Regions from separate parts of the Homo sapiens genome. Here region 2 is linked to region 1. The links come from fine-mapping of genetic effects on gene expression. Tissue or cell type: whole blood. Region 1 holds a variant in brackets; the other region holds the start of a gene. All regions are shown on one strand. Distances are from middle to middle.

The links. PIP is the estimated chance that this variant, and not a neighbour inherited with it, causes the effect.
Region 2: TRAPPC6B starts here. The variant in region 1 is fine-mapped to the expression of TRAPPC6B in whole blood (TOPMed, PIP above 0.99). The same link has a PIP of 0.9 or more in lung.

What each region holds. Positions count from the first base shown.
Region 1 is chr14:39,197,464-39,205,643 of GRCh38, forward strand. It overlaps the pseudogene LOC100313942. Among named protein-coding and RNA genes, the nearest start is that of PNN-AS1, 26 kb to the left of the region's middle. RefSeq lists enhancers at 6,033-6,799, 6,279-7,478, 6,800-7,567. The variant T/G (reference allele first, on the strand shown) is at 4,094.
Region 2 is chr14:39,165,419-39,173,598 of GRCh38, forward strand. It overlaps TRAPPC6B (trafficking protein particle complex subunit 6B), which reads right to left and starts at 4,915. Exons shown (of 6, transcript NM_001079537.2): 1 at 4,597-4,915. The coding sequence starts at 4,677. RefSeq lists enhancers at 4,373-4,962, 4,722-4,771, 5,553-6,142.

The sequences.
Region 1 (8,180 bases):
GGACCACACAAAGGAGGAAAGTGGAGTAAAGTGACAGAAGGAATCTGAATGATCTTGTGAAACATACCCATCGTACCTCCTATCCTCATTGCAATTTTGTGTGAAAAATACATTTGTCGGCTGGGCGTGGTGGCTCACGCCTGTAATCCCAGCACTTTGGGAGGCCAAGGCAGACGGATCACAAGGTCAGGAGTTTGAGACCAGCCTGAGCAACATGGAGAAACCCTGACTCTACTAAAAATACAAAAATTAGCCGGGCATGGTAGCGCGCACCTGTAATCCCAGCTACTTAAGAGGTTGAGGCAGGAGAATCTCTTGAACCCGGGAGGCGGAGGTTGCAGTGAGCTGAGATCGCGCCACTGCACTCCAGCCTGGGCGACAGAGCGAGACTCCGTCTCAAAAAAAAAAAAATACATTTGTCTTGTTGAAGACAAGGTTATTTGTTCCCTTTGAAAGCAAACAGACATTCTATAACTAACAATACTTTAGAGATGGACTTCTAAGTTGTTTACAATTTTTCTTTTTTTGAGATGGAGTTTTGCTCTTGTTGCCCAGGCTGGAGTGCAATGGCGCGATCTTGGCTCACCGCAACCTCCGCCTCCCGGGTTCAAGCAATTCTCCTGCCTCAGCCTCCCCAGTAGCTGGGATCACAGGCATGTGCCACCACACTTAGCAAATTTTGTATTTTTAGTAGAGACGAGGTTTCCCCATGTTGGTCAGTTTGGTCTCGAAATCCCAACCTCAGGTGATCCGCCCACCTCGGCCTCCCAAAGTGCTGGGATTACAGGTGTGAGCCACCGTGCCGGCCTACAATTTTTCAATATTATAAGTAATTCCAGTGCATATATCTCTTCCCATGTGTAATATTATATCCTTAGAGTAAATTCATATATGTAAAATTGATGGGTCAATGAGACATTTCAAGTATATTGGAAATTTATACAAATTTATAAATTTATACTGCTACCGACTATAGAGGAGGTTGCTTTTTTTCCCCATATCCTTACCAACATGGATTTTGTCAGCTTTATTTATTTGAGGTTGAAAAGAGCAAGCTCATAAAGAAATTTTGTACTCTTCTACTTTTCTTTCTTTTTTTTTTTCTGTTTTGAGACAGAATTATGATCTTGTTGCCCAGGCTGGAGTGCAGTGGCACAGTCTCGTTCACTGCAACCTCAGCCTCCTGGGTTCAAGCAATCCTTCTGCCTCAGCCTCCCAAGTAGCTGGGATTACAGGCGCCTGTCAACACACCCAGCTAATTTTGTATTTTTAGTAGAGACAGGGTTTCACCATGTTGGCCAGGCTGGTCTTGAACTCCTGACCTCAGGTGATCCGCCTGCCTCAGTCTCCCAGAGTGCTGGGATTACAGGTGTGAGCCACTGCGCCTGGCCTTCTACATTTCATTAATAAAGAGTCAAATGTGTTTTCTAGCACATTTGTAGTTTTTTTTACATTTAACTGTTAATATATCTGAAATTTATTTAGTTGTTTAAAAAAAGATAAGAATGGCCAAGCACGGTGGCTCACGCCTATAATCCCAGCACCTTGAGAAGAGGGCGGATCACCTGAGGTTGGGAGTTTGAGACAAGCCTGACCAACATTGAGAAACCCCATCTCTACTAAAAATACAAAATTAGCCGGGCGTGGTGGTGCACGCCTGTAATCCCAGCAACTCTAGAGGCTGAGGCAGGAGAATCGCTTGAACCCAGGAGGCAGAGGTTGCAGTGAGCTGAGATCACACCATTGCACTCTAGCCTGGATGACGAGAGTGAAACTCCATCTCAAAAAAAAAAAAAAAAAAAAAAGGTCAGAATTAACTTTTTTTTTCAAGTTGCTGTTAGTTCTTCCAGTATAATTTATTGAATAATCTTTGTCTCCCTCCCTGAATTAAAATGCAACCATATAGCAAATTATCATATTTTCTTGGGTCTATTTAATTGAATGCTATATTAAATTTTTTTTTTTTTTTTTTTTTGAGACAGAGTCTTGCTTTGTCTCGCAGGCTGGAGTGCAATGGGGCGACGATCTCGGCTCACTGCAAGCTCTGCCTCCTGGGTTCATGCCATTCTCCTGCCTCAGCCTCCCGAGTAGCTGGGACTACAGGCACACGCCACCATGCCCGGCTCATTTTTTGTATTTTTAGCAGAGATGGGGTTTCACCGTGTTAGCCAGGATGGTCTCGATCTCCTGACCTCGTGATCCACCCGCCTCAGCCTCCCAAAATGCTGGGATTACAGACGTGAGCCACCACGTCCAGCCTAAAATTGTTTTATAGTAGGTTTTAATATCTGGTATGCTAAGTCCCCCCCAATATGCTTCTTTTCCAATTTTTCCAAAATATTTATTTTTATTGTTATTATTTTTTTGAGACAGAGTCTCTCTTTGTTGCCCAGGCTGGAGTGCAGTGGTGCGATCTCAGCTCACTGCAACCTCTGCCTCCTGGGTTCAAGCGATTCTCCTGCCTCAGCCTCCTGAGTAGCTGGGACTACAGGCATGCGCCACCATGCCTGGCTAATTTTTGTATTTTTAGTAGAGATGGAGTTTCACCATGTTGGTCAGGCTGGTCTCAAACTCCTGATCCTGTGATCCACCTGCCTAGGCCTCCCAAAGTGCTAGGATTACAGGCATGAGCCACCATGCCTGGCTATATATTTATTTTTAATGAAAACTTTAGAATCATTTTTCAAGTTCCCCAAAAAGTTAACATTTTCATTGCAATTATATGGCCTTTATAAATTTAGAAGTAATCAACATCTTTAGAATATTGACTCTAAACAGAAACAAGTATAACTCTGCATTTATTCTATCATCTATATTCTGCAGTAACATTTTATAGTTTTCTTCATCAGGTCTTGTACATTTTTATTAAGTTTAGCCGTAGAGTGTCTTTTGCTAAAACAAATTATTTGCTATTGTGAACAGGATTTTTTTCTTTTTATTGCATTTCCACCGATTTGTTGTTTATGTATAGGAAATTTAAAAATATTTTTCCAGTTTGCAGGAAGCTCCTTTGTCTACCTCTTGTCTACAGTGGAAACTCCTGTGACTATTTTCTAAGCCATACTTGACTGGATCACAGTTAAAGAAAAAGTGAGGCACTTCTTCAGGAAGACAAGAACATTTCTTTTGGTGGTTGGACTTATAAAATGTTGGAATAATAAGTCTGTCTTTGTCCACTCTGGCTGCTATAACAAAATACCATAAACTGGGTAGCTTATAAACAACAGAAACTTCTCACAGTTCTGGAACCTGGGAAGTCCAAGAACAAGATAAGATTAGGTGTCTGGTAAGGGCCCGCTTCCTCATAGATGGCATCTTCTTGCTGTGACCTCACATAATATAAGGGATGAGGAGTCTCTCTTGGCCCTCTTTTATAAGGTCACGAATCCACTCAAGGACCTCACTTTCTAGTACCATCACCCCTGGGGGCTAGGATTTCAACATATGAATTTGATGGGGGGGGGGTGGGACACAGATATTCAGATCATAGCAAAGTCTTAATTCATTAATATGTAATTTTTCACCTGGTGCAGTGGCTCACACCTGTAATTCCAACACTTCCAGAGACTGAGGCAGGTGGATCACTTAAGCCCAGGAGTTCAAGATCAGCCTGGGTAAAATGGCAAAACCCCATGTCTACAAAAAATACAAAAATTAGCCAGGCATGGTGGCGTACCTGTAGTCCTTCCTAAGGCAAGAAGATCACCTGAGTCCAGGAGGTGGAGGTTGCATTGAGTCATGATTGTGCCACTGCACTCCAGTCTGGAAGACAGGGCAAGGCTGTCTCAAAAAAAAAAAAAAAAGTGTGTAGCACCCCATTAATTAAAAAATGAATAAATATATAAAAAGATGTAACTTCCCTTCCTGAAACTGTTACCAAAAATGTTCTCTTGGGCCAGGCGTGGTGGCTCACACCTGTAATCCCAGCACTTTGGGAGGCCGAGGCGGGCGGATCATGAGGTCAGGAGATTGAGACCATCCTGGCTAACACGGTGAAACCCCGTCTCTACTAAAAAATACAAAAAATTAGCCGGGCGTGGCGGCGGGCGCCTGTAGTCCCAGCTACTCGGGAGGCTGAGGCAGGAGAATGGTG[T/G]GAACCCGGGAGGCGGAGCTTGCAGTGAGCTGAGATTGTGCCACTGCACTCCAGCCTGGGCGACAGAGCAAAGACTCAAAAAAAAAAAAAAAAAAAAAAAAGTTCTGTTGACTTTCCCTGTGATATCAGGCGATCTTCACAATTCAGTCCAATTCCATAACCTTAAAAAACATGTTTATTGTTTGATTTTTTAAAATTTTATTTTATGAGATAGGATCTTGCTCAATCTCCCAGGCTGGAGTGCAGTGGCAGGATCACAGATCACTACAGCCTCAACATCCTGGCTCAGCCTTCCAAGTACCTGGGACTACAGCTGCATGTCACCGCGCCCAGCTAATTTTATTTTATTTTTTGTAGAGACAGGGATCTCACCATGTTGCTCAGGCTGGTCTCGAACTCCTGAGCTCAAGTGATCCTCCTGCCTTGGCCTTCCAAAGTGCTGGGACTACAGACATGAACCACCACACCTGGCCAAAAAACATGTTTATTGTTAAAAGTTTTAAACACACGAAGGTAGAAAGAATGTTATAATGAACCTCTATGTACCTATCACTCAGCTTTAACAATTATCAACTTATTGCTATTTTTGTTTCAACACTCCACATATTCCTTACCACACACACACCCTTAGTCTCTGCCACTTGAATCATTTCCAAAACTTTTTGATGGCCTAGGTTTCCTTGCCCACTGGGGCGACTAGCCTCTTTCCACAATGTCTATTTGATCATGAGGACAGTCACATATTACTATGCCATGCAGTAGGAAGACATTGGTCCCACCACTCCTTTCTTTTTTGTTCATTTCTTTCTCTACTGAGTGGCAGCAAGCCTGAGGCGTTACATATTGTGCTACTTTTTGGTTTAGCAATCTATAGATGACACTATGAACAGATCCCTTGGTAGATGGGTTAACTTGAACACCTCCTAGTTAAATAGCAAGGGGGAGGGGACAAACTGAATGCCAAACATCCCCATTCCCATCACCGCACATCAGAAGAGAAGGGAGAAGAGATGATTGACACTACTATGAGCTCTGTGTGCTACCTCCCACCTCCAATATTTAGATTTACAGAAGGCTTGCAAAGAGATTATTGGACTCAAAGATGTCGGTTTTCTGAAAATAGAATATAAAAGTACTCAGTGCCATTTTTGTTCTCAGCTGTTAAGTTCTGTTAGGAAATACATGGAAGACAAGAAAGATACTGCTTGACACATCTATCACCATGTTACACATATAAACTCAAGAAATGTAGGAAATGGCTCCATTGCTGCACTGCTGTTCTGCCTTGCGAGAGAACTCTGGCACAGGCTGCGGGTCCAGAGGCCTGGCTCTGCTTGAAGTAGCTCCCCCTTGCCCTATTTCACTCTGCAGGGCCACTAAGGCCCTGGGACACTGCGAGTGCTAAAGCTACAGACTGTTTGGTTGCAATGTGGTGTCCCTCAGGCGTATAGATTCTTTTTTTTTTTTGGAGGTGAAGTTTTGCTTTTGTTGCTCAGGCTGGAACACAATGGCACGATCTCAGCTCACTGCAACCTCTGCCTCCTGGGTTCAAGTGATTCTCCTGTCTCAGACTCCCAAGTAGCTGGGATTACAGGTGTCTGCCACCACGCCCAGCTAATTTTTGTATATTTAGTAGAGACGGGGTTTCACTATGTTGACCAGGCTGGTCTTGAACTCCTGACCCCAGGTGATCCACCCGCCTCGGTCTCCCAAAGTGCTAGGATTGCTGGCGTAAGCCACTGCGCCTGGCCTAGACTCTCTTTTTAAAGATTAACTGGAGATCATCATGGCGGATGGGAGGCAGAACTAGACTGCAGCTCTGACTCTGATGGACAGAGCAGTGTGTGGAGGCTCACGTCATGAATTTTAGCTTCAGATCAACTGCAATAACAGACCACCAATCCTGAGAGGACCCACAGACCCTCTGAGGGAAGCAGACTGCTCCTGCAGGACCTTGGAGACACCCCAAATATTGTGAGAGCCCCAATTGCGGAAGTGGGAAAGCGAGATCCTCCTCTCCCGAACACACACCCCCTCTGGAGAAACTGAAGGACTGTTTGCAGGAGAAGTTTTTGATCTTACCTGGAGCTGATTCAATTTAGACAGCCCAACAAAATACAGGTGTAGAGGAAGCAGTAGGAAAGGCCCTGGGAACTTGCTGGGTCCCCAGCAGGCCATTCCTGCCTGGCACCACAGGGATCTATCAGGAGAGTGGGCAGAAGAGTGAGGGAAAACACCACAGGGAGAAGGAAATCTCCAGCTGAACTTTGTGACAATTTGAACCTGGTGAGAAGCCTCCTGGCCAGAACTCAGGGGAGGATGCATATCAGTGTGCAGACTCCACAGACTGGGGTAGAACTAAAGCCCTTTTATGTTGCAGCTGGGAGGAGGGTAGCCTGGGGCAAGTTCTCAAGCCCAGCCCACCCACTGTCCAGAAACAGACTTGACGCTGTCAGGGGGTGCATGGTGGGTGTGGGACCAGCTCTTTAGTTTGTGTGGGAGGTGGATGAGGCCTGTGACTGCCAGCTTTCCCCCACTTCCCTGACAACCTGCATGACTCAGCAGAGGCATCTATAATCCTCCTAGGTACACAACTCCATTGACCTGGGAACCTTACCCCATCCCCCACAGCAGCCACAGCAAGACCCGCCCAAGGATAGTCTGAGCTCAGACATGCCTAGCCCTGCCCCCACCTGATGGGCCTTCCTTATCCACTCTGGTAGCTGAAGACAAAGGGCATATAATCTTGGGACTTCAAGGGCCCCACCCACCACTGGTTCCTCTCCATACTACCATAGTTGATGCTCTCTGGAAAGCATCACCTCCCAGCAGGAGGCCAACTAGCACAAAAATAGAGCATTTAAACCACCAAAGCTAAGAACCCTCACAGAGCCCATTGCGCTCCCCTGCCACCTCCACCAGAACAGGTGCTGGTATCCATGTCTGAGAGATCCATAGACAGTTCACATCACAGGGCTCTGTGCAGACAACTCCCAGTACCAGCCCAGAGCTGGGTAGACGTGCTGGGTGGCTCGATCCAGAAGAAAGACAACAATCACTGCAGTCTGGCTCACAGGAAGCCACATCCATAGGAAAAGGGAAGACTCAAGGGACAAAAGAATCTGAACAACAGCCTTCAGCCTTAGACCCTCCCTCTGATAGAGCCTATCCAAATGAGAAGGAACCAGAAAACCAACTCTGGTAATATGACAAAAAAAGGCTCTGTAACACCCCCCAAATAATCACAGTAGCTCACCAGCAGTAGAACCAAACCAAGAAGAGATCCCCGATTTACCTGAAAAAGAATACAGGAGGTTAGTTATTAAGCTAATCAGGGAGGCACCAGAGAATGGTGAAGCCCAGCACAAAGAAATCCAAAAAACAATACAAGAAGTGAAGAGAGAAATATTCAGGAAAATAGATAGCATAAAGAAAAAACAATCAAAACTTCAGGAAACACTGGACACACTTATAGAAATGCAAAATGCTCTGGAAAGTCTCAGCAGTAGAATTGAACAAGTAGAAGAAAGAAATTCAGAGCTCGAAGACAAGGTCTAACAAAGACAAAGAAAAAAGAATAAGAAAATATGAGTCTGGGCAGGGTGGCTCACGCCTGTAATGCCAGCACTTTGGGAGGCTGAGGCGGGCGGATCACGAGGTCAGGAGATTGAGACCAGCCTTGCCAACAGGGTGAAACCCCATCTCTACTAAAGACACAAAAATTAGCTGAGTGTGGTGGTGCCTGCCTGTAATCCCAGCTACTCAGGAGGCTGAGGCAGGAGAATCGTTTGAACAAGGGTGTCGGAGGTTGCAGTGAGCCGAGATGGTGCCATTGCACTCCAGCCTGGCGACAGAGCGAGACTCCATCTAAAAAAAAAAGAAAGAAAGAAAATATGAACAAAGCCTCCAAGAAGCCTGGGATTGTGTTAAATTACCAAACCTAAGAATAATTGGTGTTTTGAGACTAGCCTGGCCAACATGGTGAAACCCTGTCTCTACTAAAAGTACAAAAAATTAGCCGGGCATGGTGGCATGTGCCTGTAGTCCCCGCTACTCAGGAGGCTAAGGTAGGAGGATCGCTTGAACC
Region 2 (8,180 bases), 32 kb before region 1:
TGTCGTAAAATTCTGTACATACATCTATTACTGTACGTATCACTATCTTCAGTTTTTCTGCTATTCTCCACACTTCTCAAACATGCTTAGGATGAGGCCAGGCGCAGTGCTCATGCCTATAATCCCAGCACCGTAGGAGGCTGAGGCAGGAGGGTCACTTGAGACTAGGAGTCTGAGACCAGCCTGAGCAACATAGCAAGACTCTGTTTCTACAAAAAAAAATTTTTTTAATTAGCTGGACATGGTAGCATGCCCATAGCCCTAGCTATTCGAGAGGCTGATGTGGGAGGATCACTTAAGCCCAGGAGGTCAAGGCTGCAGTGAGCCAAAGTCCCAACACTGCATTTCAGCCTGCATGACAGAGCAAGACATTGTCTCTCTCTCTCTCTCTCTGTTTTTTTTTGAGACTGAGTCTTGCTCTGTCACCCAGGTTGGAGTGCAGTGACACAATCTCGGCTCAATGCAACCTCCGCCTCCTGGGTTCAAGTGATTCTTCTGCCTCAGCCTCCCGAGTAGCTGGGACTACATGCGTGCACCACCACACCCAGCTATTTTTTGTATTTTTAGTAGAGACGGAGTTTCACCATGTTGGCCAGGCTGGCCTGGAACTCCTGTCCTTGTGACCTGCCTGCCTTGGCCTCCCAAAGTGCTAGGATTACAGGCCTGAGCCACCGTGTCCAGCCTCTTTTTTTTTTTATTTAAATAGAGACACTGTTTCACTATGTTGCCCAGGTTGGTCTCCAACTCCTGGGCTCAAGTAATTCTCCCACCTCAGCCTTCCAAAGTGCTGGGATTTACAGGTGTGAGCCACCACACTAACCCAGAGACTTGTCTCTTAAAAAAAAAAAAAACAAAAAAACAAGTTCAGCTAGAATAAGTGTCTGTAAATCATGATGCTCTTTTTGGAATAATCTGCTCTCTGTAGAATCACCTAGGAACATATTTATTAGCAGGAACTATTGAAACCACCTTTGCAAAGATTGTAACAGTAAGAAAATCATGACTGTAAAAGAGATCTCACCTAATCAACTCCATCTTGCCTTTAACCTCCAAGCTGCCCTTGGTCATTTCTGGATGCAGCCCAAGCTAACTTTGGGAGAAATTTAGTTTATAGTGTAAGCTTAAAGCAAGAATGATAATAGCCCTTCCCGAAACTAAATCACCTTTGCAAAACTAATGAAAGACTATAAGGTTAGGCTTATGAGAGGGGTCTGAATTCTGCTAAAATGTAGGTAGTTAAATGATAATCAGACATTATTCTGGAAGTCACAGATTTGTAACTTCCCCAATTACTCCTGTAAATAATATCACTATTGTAGAACCTAAAAAAGGCCTTTTGAGATGTCTTTTCAGACTTTTGCATTTCGGATGACTCCAACTGGTCCTCTGGCCCCCACCTCTGTAACTGCATCCCCAACCAACCAGGAGCACCCATTCCCCAGCCCCCAGCCTACCAAACTATCCTTGATAAACCCTAGACTCTGCATGTTTGGGGAGGCTGATTTGAGCAATAATAAAACTCTGCTCTCCCATTTAGCAGCTCTACATAAACTCCTTATTGCAATTCTCCTGTCTTGATAGATCAGCTCTACCTGGGCAGTGGGGAAGAAGAACCCACTGGGCAGTTACAATATGCTTATATGCAGACACTTTCAAATCCTATGATCACATGAGCTTTTGAATTAAGCCCTACTACTTAATTTTGCTACTTGTTCATGCACTTTTGAGTAGGCACCAAATTTTTAAGAAAAATTCAACTTGAGAACATTTTATCCATTAGCCTTTCAAAATCCATTCACCATAAATTGAGAAATGCCCAATTAGTCCATTTTAAGAGAATTCCTCTTTAAGCATAGTTTGAAAAACCTTGATTTGGAGGGTTAGAACACTGTTTCTTTCTTTTATCTCACCTCAAGTCTTATGGAAGTTTATTTTGCTATACTGAAAATTTATAAAACTTTATTTCATTTAAAAAAACTTTCCATAACAAAAACAAAAAAAAAGACACATAATCCTGTCAGCGAGAAATGGATTTTATAGGTCTTTTCAGACATAAACAACATAGTTTTTACAGATCTTTTTATGTCTGAAAAAAATCTCTAAAAATCACCTCTGGATGACAGGATTATGTATCTTTTACATTTTTCATGATGAAAAATTTCAAGCACACTCAAAGTATGGACACTAATGTGAACCCTTATATACCCGTATTTCAGTATGGGTTCTGATTATGAAGACTACCACATAACTGTTATTTATATAATTTTTGCTTATTATGTACTTTCAATTTTCCCCCCCATCATAAATACACTGCAGTAGAAAAAGAAAGTTATTTTTAGCTTAAATGATTCAAAACTATGAACTTCCTTTCTCTTGTATGTTAGTCCATCTCTTAAAATTATCAGGCCTGAGTAGAACAGCTCTGTTCATTTTATTTAGGATTAACCCACGGGAAAAAAAAAAGATATTTTAAAAAGAAGAAAAAATATTATTCTAGACAAGAGTCAGAAAAGGGCCAGGCGCAGTGGCTTACGCTTGTAATCCCAGCACTTTGGGAGGCCAAGGCGGGCAGATCACCTGAGGTCAGAAGTTCAAGAACAGCCTGGTCAACAGGGTGAAACTCCGTCTCTACTAAAAATACAAAAAAATTAGTCAGGCATGGTGGCCGGCACCTGTAATTCCAGATACTCAGGAGGCTGAAGCAGGAGAATCGCTTGAACCCAAGAGGCGGAGGCTGCAGTGAGCTGAGATCACACCACTGCACTCCAGCCTGGGAGACAAGAACAAAACTCCATCTAAAAAAAAAAAAAAAGAGAGAGAGAGAAGAGGAAAGGTAAGAAGGGAGGGGAGAATGAAGAGAACTGAATACGCAAGTGGTTTGGGGGGATCGGGGGTTATGACAAAAAAGTAAAAGGGGTGTGTTAACTGTTCTAGAGGGAAAAGGAAGGCTAGCTTTGCACAAACAGTAAACCTTGAGGTCAATAATAAAGTCAGAAGTTTGTGACTTGAAAAAAATCTCTATTATAGATGGGTCATTTGAATAAGAATAGAATTCGCTTCATTTCCAATAACCTTCCAAATGTATCCTGCCTATCCTTCTTGTGCAAACTGGCAGTACCTTTTTTTGGATGTCATACAGGCACCTCAAAAGTTCAACCTGCCCCGAAATAACTCATTATCTTACCTCCTTATTTTTTTCTTCTCCTTTATTTCCTTTTCTGATTAATAGTACCACCATCCAACCCAGCTGCTCAAGCTGAAAACCTGACGATAATTTTCAACTCCCACTCCCATCCTTAAACAAGGCCTACAGAATTCCACTTTCTAACTTTCAAATCTGTTATCTCCTTTTCTCACTATCCCTGTCTTAATCCAGATCTTCATCTCCTCCTGCAGTGACTCCCGTAATAAAGGATTTTCCCCCTACAAGGATCTTCCCTCTCTAGCCCAAACACTGGATTACTTTTCTAAAATGCAAATGGTCCACATCATTCCCTTCCTTAAAAATATTCCCTCGAAAAGATCCGAATTCTTTAATTACACAAAGCTTTCTAACTTCACCTCTCAATTCTTCTCACTCTCTATTCAGTCTAGTCCAAAGAAATGCTTAAGTGTATTTAAATCCACCACTCTTTCATACCTCTACCACTTTATCTTTGCCTAGGATACATTTCCTATCCCCACTCTCCACTCATTTTTTATCAATAGCATTAAAGAAAGGGCTCCTGACTTGAGCATGACTTTGGAGTATTTCTAAAATCCGTTACAACTCCATGATTCTACCAGCCAATACTCAGTGTTAACTATTCATTAAATCACTATTCCCTAAATACTGTGAGGCAGGAGTATTATTTTATTTAATTTATCTAGCAGTGTCAGCAGTGACAGGCCCACAATGATTGAATAAGGACTCCCACATATTAGAAGTAACCGCTACATACTATCACATTTCGGATTAAATTAGATTAAAAAAAAATCTCTACAAGGATGGGGCCATTGTTTCATTCACTACTATATCCCTGGCACCTAGAAATCGCTCTGACATAAGGGCACTAAATAAATACTTTCTGAAATAATTAATTTAAATTATGTTCCCTAATTATCCTAACGCCTGCAAACTTTCCTTTGCAAACTCAACCTTCATTAGGCTTCAGGTCTCAAGTTGTGTGGAGTTGTACTGAGCATTAGGAATGAGGAAGGAGGGACAGGCTTCTCAGGTTGGCACAGGTCTGTCCAGTGCATGGCTCAAGTGCTGGAAGTGCCAGCAAAACTAAGTAGGCTCTGCAGTTAACCCTCTCGTAAATAATGGCAGGGACAACACTAAAAGTACCAAAATCTGTGGCGTGCAAGACAAACGTACGGGAATAGACAAAAGAGAATCAAATAGAAGAAGATACGAAAGAGAAAACGATGAAAGATGACGGTTCAAAGGAGACAACTGACAGGTTCTAGGGTTTAGGACACCTGGAGGTGGACCATTTTGTGTACACCTCGGGAGGCGTCGGGTGGCGATGGGACAGGGGTTGAAGGAAAGCACTGAGGGGAAACAAGGTGTGTCACCGCAAAAGGACCTCAAGGTTGTGTGGCAGCACTCACCACCTCCCCCTGCTCCGCGGACTTGTACACTCCAGACACCATCTCGTTATGGAGAAGCAAAAACAACGCCTCATCCGCCATTTCCTGCTAATTCTTCCAAGCTTCGAGTTTTGGCTCCCGTTTGAGCTGGTCTGGGGGTTCCAGCTCGCGCCTCAGCGACTTCGCCGGCGCCGCGGCTCCGTCAGGCCGCCATTCTATCCCTGTGGCTAAGAGACCGAGGTATTCACACGACTTCCCAAAGGCTGGTACTGAAATGAGTCTGGTACTGGAGAGAGCCCACACTTCGGGGCTACCAAATCCTAGGGCCGAACTAAAGTCTGACGGGAGCTCTAACCAAAGCCAACCAGCTGAGATGCGATCCGGCCGCTGGGCGGGGGCGAAAAAAACAACTTCCGGTCCCCTCTACCCCGGCATTCGGCCAGCTCTATGATCACTGAGTTCCTCTCTCCCAAGCCCGGAGAGGCCAGCGCCCAGATATGAGGAAGGTTCCCCTCTCACCACGATGTCGGGGGCAGAGCAAGATAAAATAAGACCTAAAGCTCCCGCCTGGCCCGGGCGCGGTGGCTCACGCCTGTAATCCCAGCACTTTGGGTGGCGGAGGCGGGTGGATCACATGAGGTCGGAAGTTCGAACCAGCCTGAGAAACCCCGTCTCTACTATAAGTACAAAATTAGCGGGGCCTGGTGGTGCATGCCTGTAATCCCAGCTACTCGGGAGTCTGAGGCAGGAGAATCGCTTGAACTCGGGAGGCGGAGGTTGCGGTGAGCTGAGATCGCGCCACTGCACTCCAGCCTGGGCAACAAGAGTGAAACTCCGTCTCAAAAAAAAAAAAAAAAAAAGAGCTCCCGCGGCCACCTCCTTGTTAATTAGCAATAGAAGTTAAAAAAATTCTTTTGGCTTCATCAAAAGCATCCACTTCCTGCCATATGTTCTTCAAATATGAAAAGTTGTAGAAAGAGTTTAAAATATACGTTTTCACAGTGCAAATTTTTTAAATATTGAAAAGTTATCCCAATTCCTATTGAATTAAGCCCGGGTATACAAAAAGAATTAGAGCCATTTTGACCACCAGGAATTTTCCTGTTAGTGGGGTGCAAGGGACAAGGGAAGTGGAGCAAACGAAAAACAAGATACACTTGAACCGGAAAATACAGACTAATCAGAGGATTAGGTGAAAAGTGCTATAGAATTCAGAAAAGCGATGTCACTGCAGGATGGAGTTGCTAATAATCTACAGCAGTGTGAGACAACTGTAGGAATTGTCCCACTGCATGTGCAAATAAATACACATGCTACATCATAGTATGTACATCTTAAATTTGGCAAATTCAACCGTAAGCATGTTGCTTAGCCTGTGATTAGTTCTTCCATTGGTAATTCACAAAACAAAATTTTTCCCCAATTGTCCCTGTTGTTTTCCCCCAAATTAACATACCGCAAGGTGGCTCATGCCTGTAAAATCCAGCACTTTGGGAGGCCGAGGCACGGGGGGTGGGGGGGATCACGAGGTCATGAGTTTTGAGAGCAGCCTGGCCAACATGGTGAAAACCCGTCTCCACTAAAAATACAAAAATTAGCCGGGCGTGGTGACAGGTGCCTGTAATCCCAGCTACTCGGGGGGCTGAGGCAGGAGAATCACTTGAACCTGGGAGGCAGAGGTTGCAGCGAGCAGAAATTGTGCCACTGCACTCCAGCCTGGGCGACAGAGCAAGACTTCGTCTCAAAAAACGAAACACACACACAAACTCTTCATGCCCTTTCACAGGAATTTAAGATCATGTTCCAAAATTTTAATTGTGGTAGGTTTTTTTTTTAAGCATGTCCCTTCTAATGTTTGAATCAGTTTATTCCATTCATCACGTAAATCCAGCATAAAAGCTCCACTTAAGCCTTTGAAAACACTAAATTGTGTAATTTTGAAGAGTATTTTGCCATGGTAATCTTAATTTTTCCAGCACTAAATTTTCAGTTATGCGAAATCAGGTCCTTTATGTCTAGATGACATTCTTGCCCTCATCACTACCATCAAGAAAAAGGAGTCCAAGTCCACCACACAAGTCAAAAAGTAAGTAAATGGCCAATTTATCAAAGTTGACTTCTCCAACCACAATAACATGAGGCTTTTAAAGTACGTTTCTGGATAGAAAGGAAACTTATTTAATGAGGACCTACTAACTATTGAACACAGCATCCTACTTATCCTTCTCCATAAAGTTAAATTGCCAAGGCTCCTAGGAATAGATCCTATGGAAGCAAGGACAGTGAGTGTGGTGTGTGTGTGTGTGTGTTTTGAGACAGAGTTTTGCTCTTGTTGCCCAGGCTGGAGTGCAATGGCACTATCTCAGCTCACTGCAACCCCGCCTCCCGGGTTCAAGTGATTCTCCTGCCTCAGCTTCCCGAGTAGGTGGGATTACAGGCATGCACCACCAAGCCCAGCTCATTTTGTATTTTTAGTAGAGACGGGGTTTCTCCATGTTGGTCAGGCTGATCTCGAACTCGTGACCTCAGGTGATCCGCCTGCCTCGGCCTCCCAAAGTGCTGGGATTACAGACTTGAGCCACTGTGCCCAGCTGTGTGTGTTTTGTTTTGTTTGAGACAGAGTCTCACTGTTGCCCAGGCCAGAGTGCAGTGGCATGATCTTGGCTCACTGCATGCAACCTCCACCTCCCGGGCTCAAGCAATTCTGCCTCAGCCTTCCAAGCAGCTGACACTACAGGCACTTGCCACCATGCAGGACTAATTTTGTATTTTTAGTAGAGACAGGGTTTCATCATGTTGGCCAGGCTGGTCTTGAACTCCCAATCTCAAGTGATCCGCCCACCAAGGCCTCCCAAAATCCTGGGATTACCGGGCCGACCATACATGCAAACATTCTTACACTTGCTGAATACGCTCTACTATTATCACACTCTCATGCCTCAGGTACTGCCTAAGGTTGTACACAGACCTGTAATAAGATCAATGAGGCTAAGTATGCTCACAATCAGAATTAGATAATTGTCAATCTTCATCCCCATTATTCATCTCTACATTTTTTTCTCCTATAGTACTTCCCGCTTTCTAACATGCTATACTATTTATTTATTTATTTATTTATTTTTGAGACAGAGTCTCACTGCTGCCCAGGCTAGAGTGCAGTGGTGTGATGACAGCTCACTGCAGTCTCAAACTCCTGGACTCAAACAATCATCCCGCCTCAGCCTCTCCAGTACAATTTTTAAAATTTTTATTTTTAGAGACAGGATCGTTGCTATGTTGCCCAGGCTGGTCTTAACTCCTGGGCTGTAGCGATTCTCCCACCTCAGTCTCCCAAGTATCTGGGATTACAGGCACAATCCACTGGACTTGCTCAGAGATCTTTATTGTACACTGATATACCCAAGTGCCTAGAATAGCACCTGGCACATAGTGGGCCCTCAGTATTTGTTGAACTAATGAATGATCATTGCTCCTTTGGAAGCCTACAAACCCCACAGAAGCAGGAATCACAACTATCTTGTTCTAGGCTTTATTTTCAAACCCTAGCTTACTGCTGATACACAATGGAAGCTCTAAAAGATTGCTGGATTAAAGTGGTAGCTTGA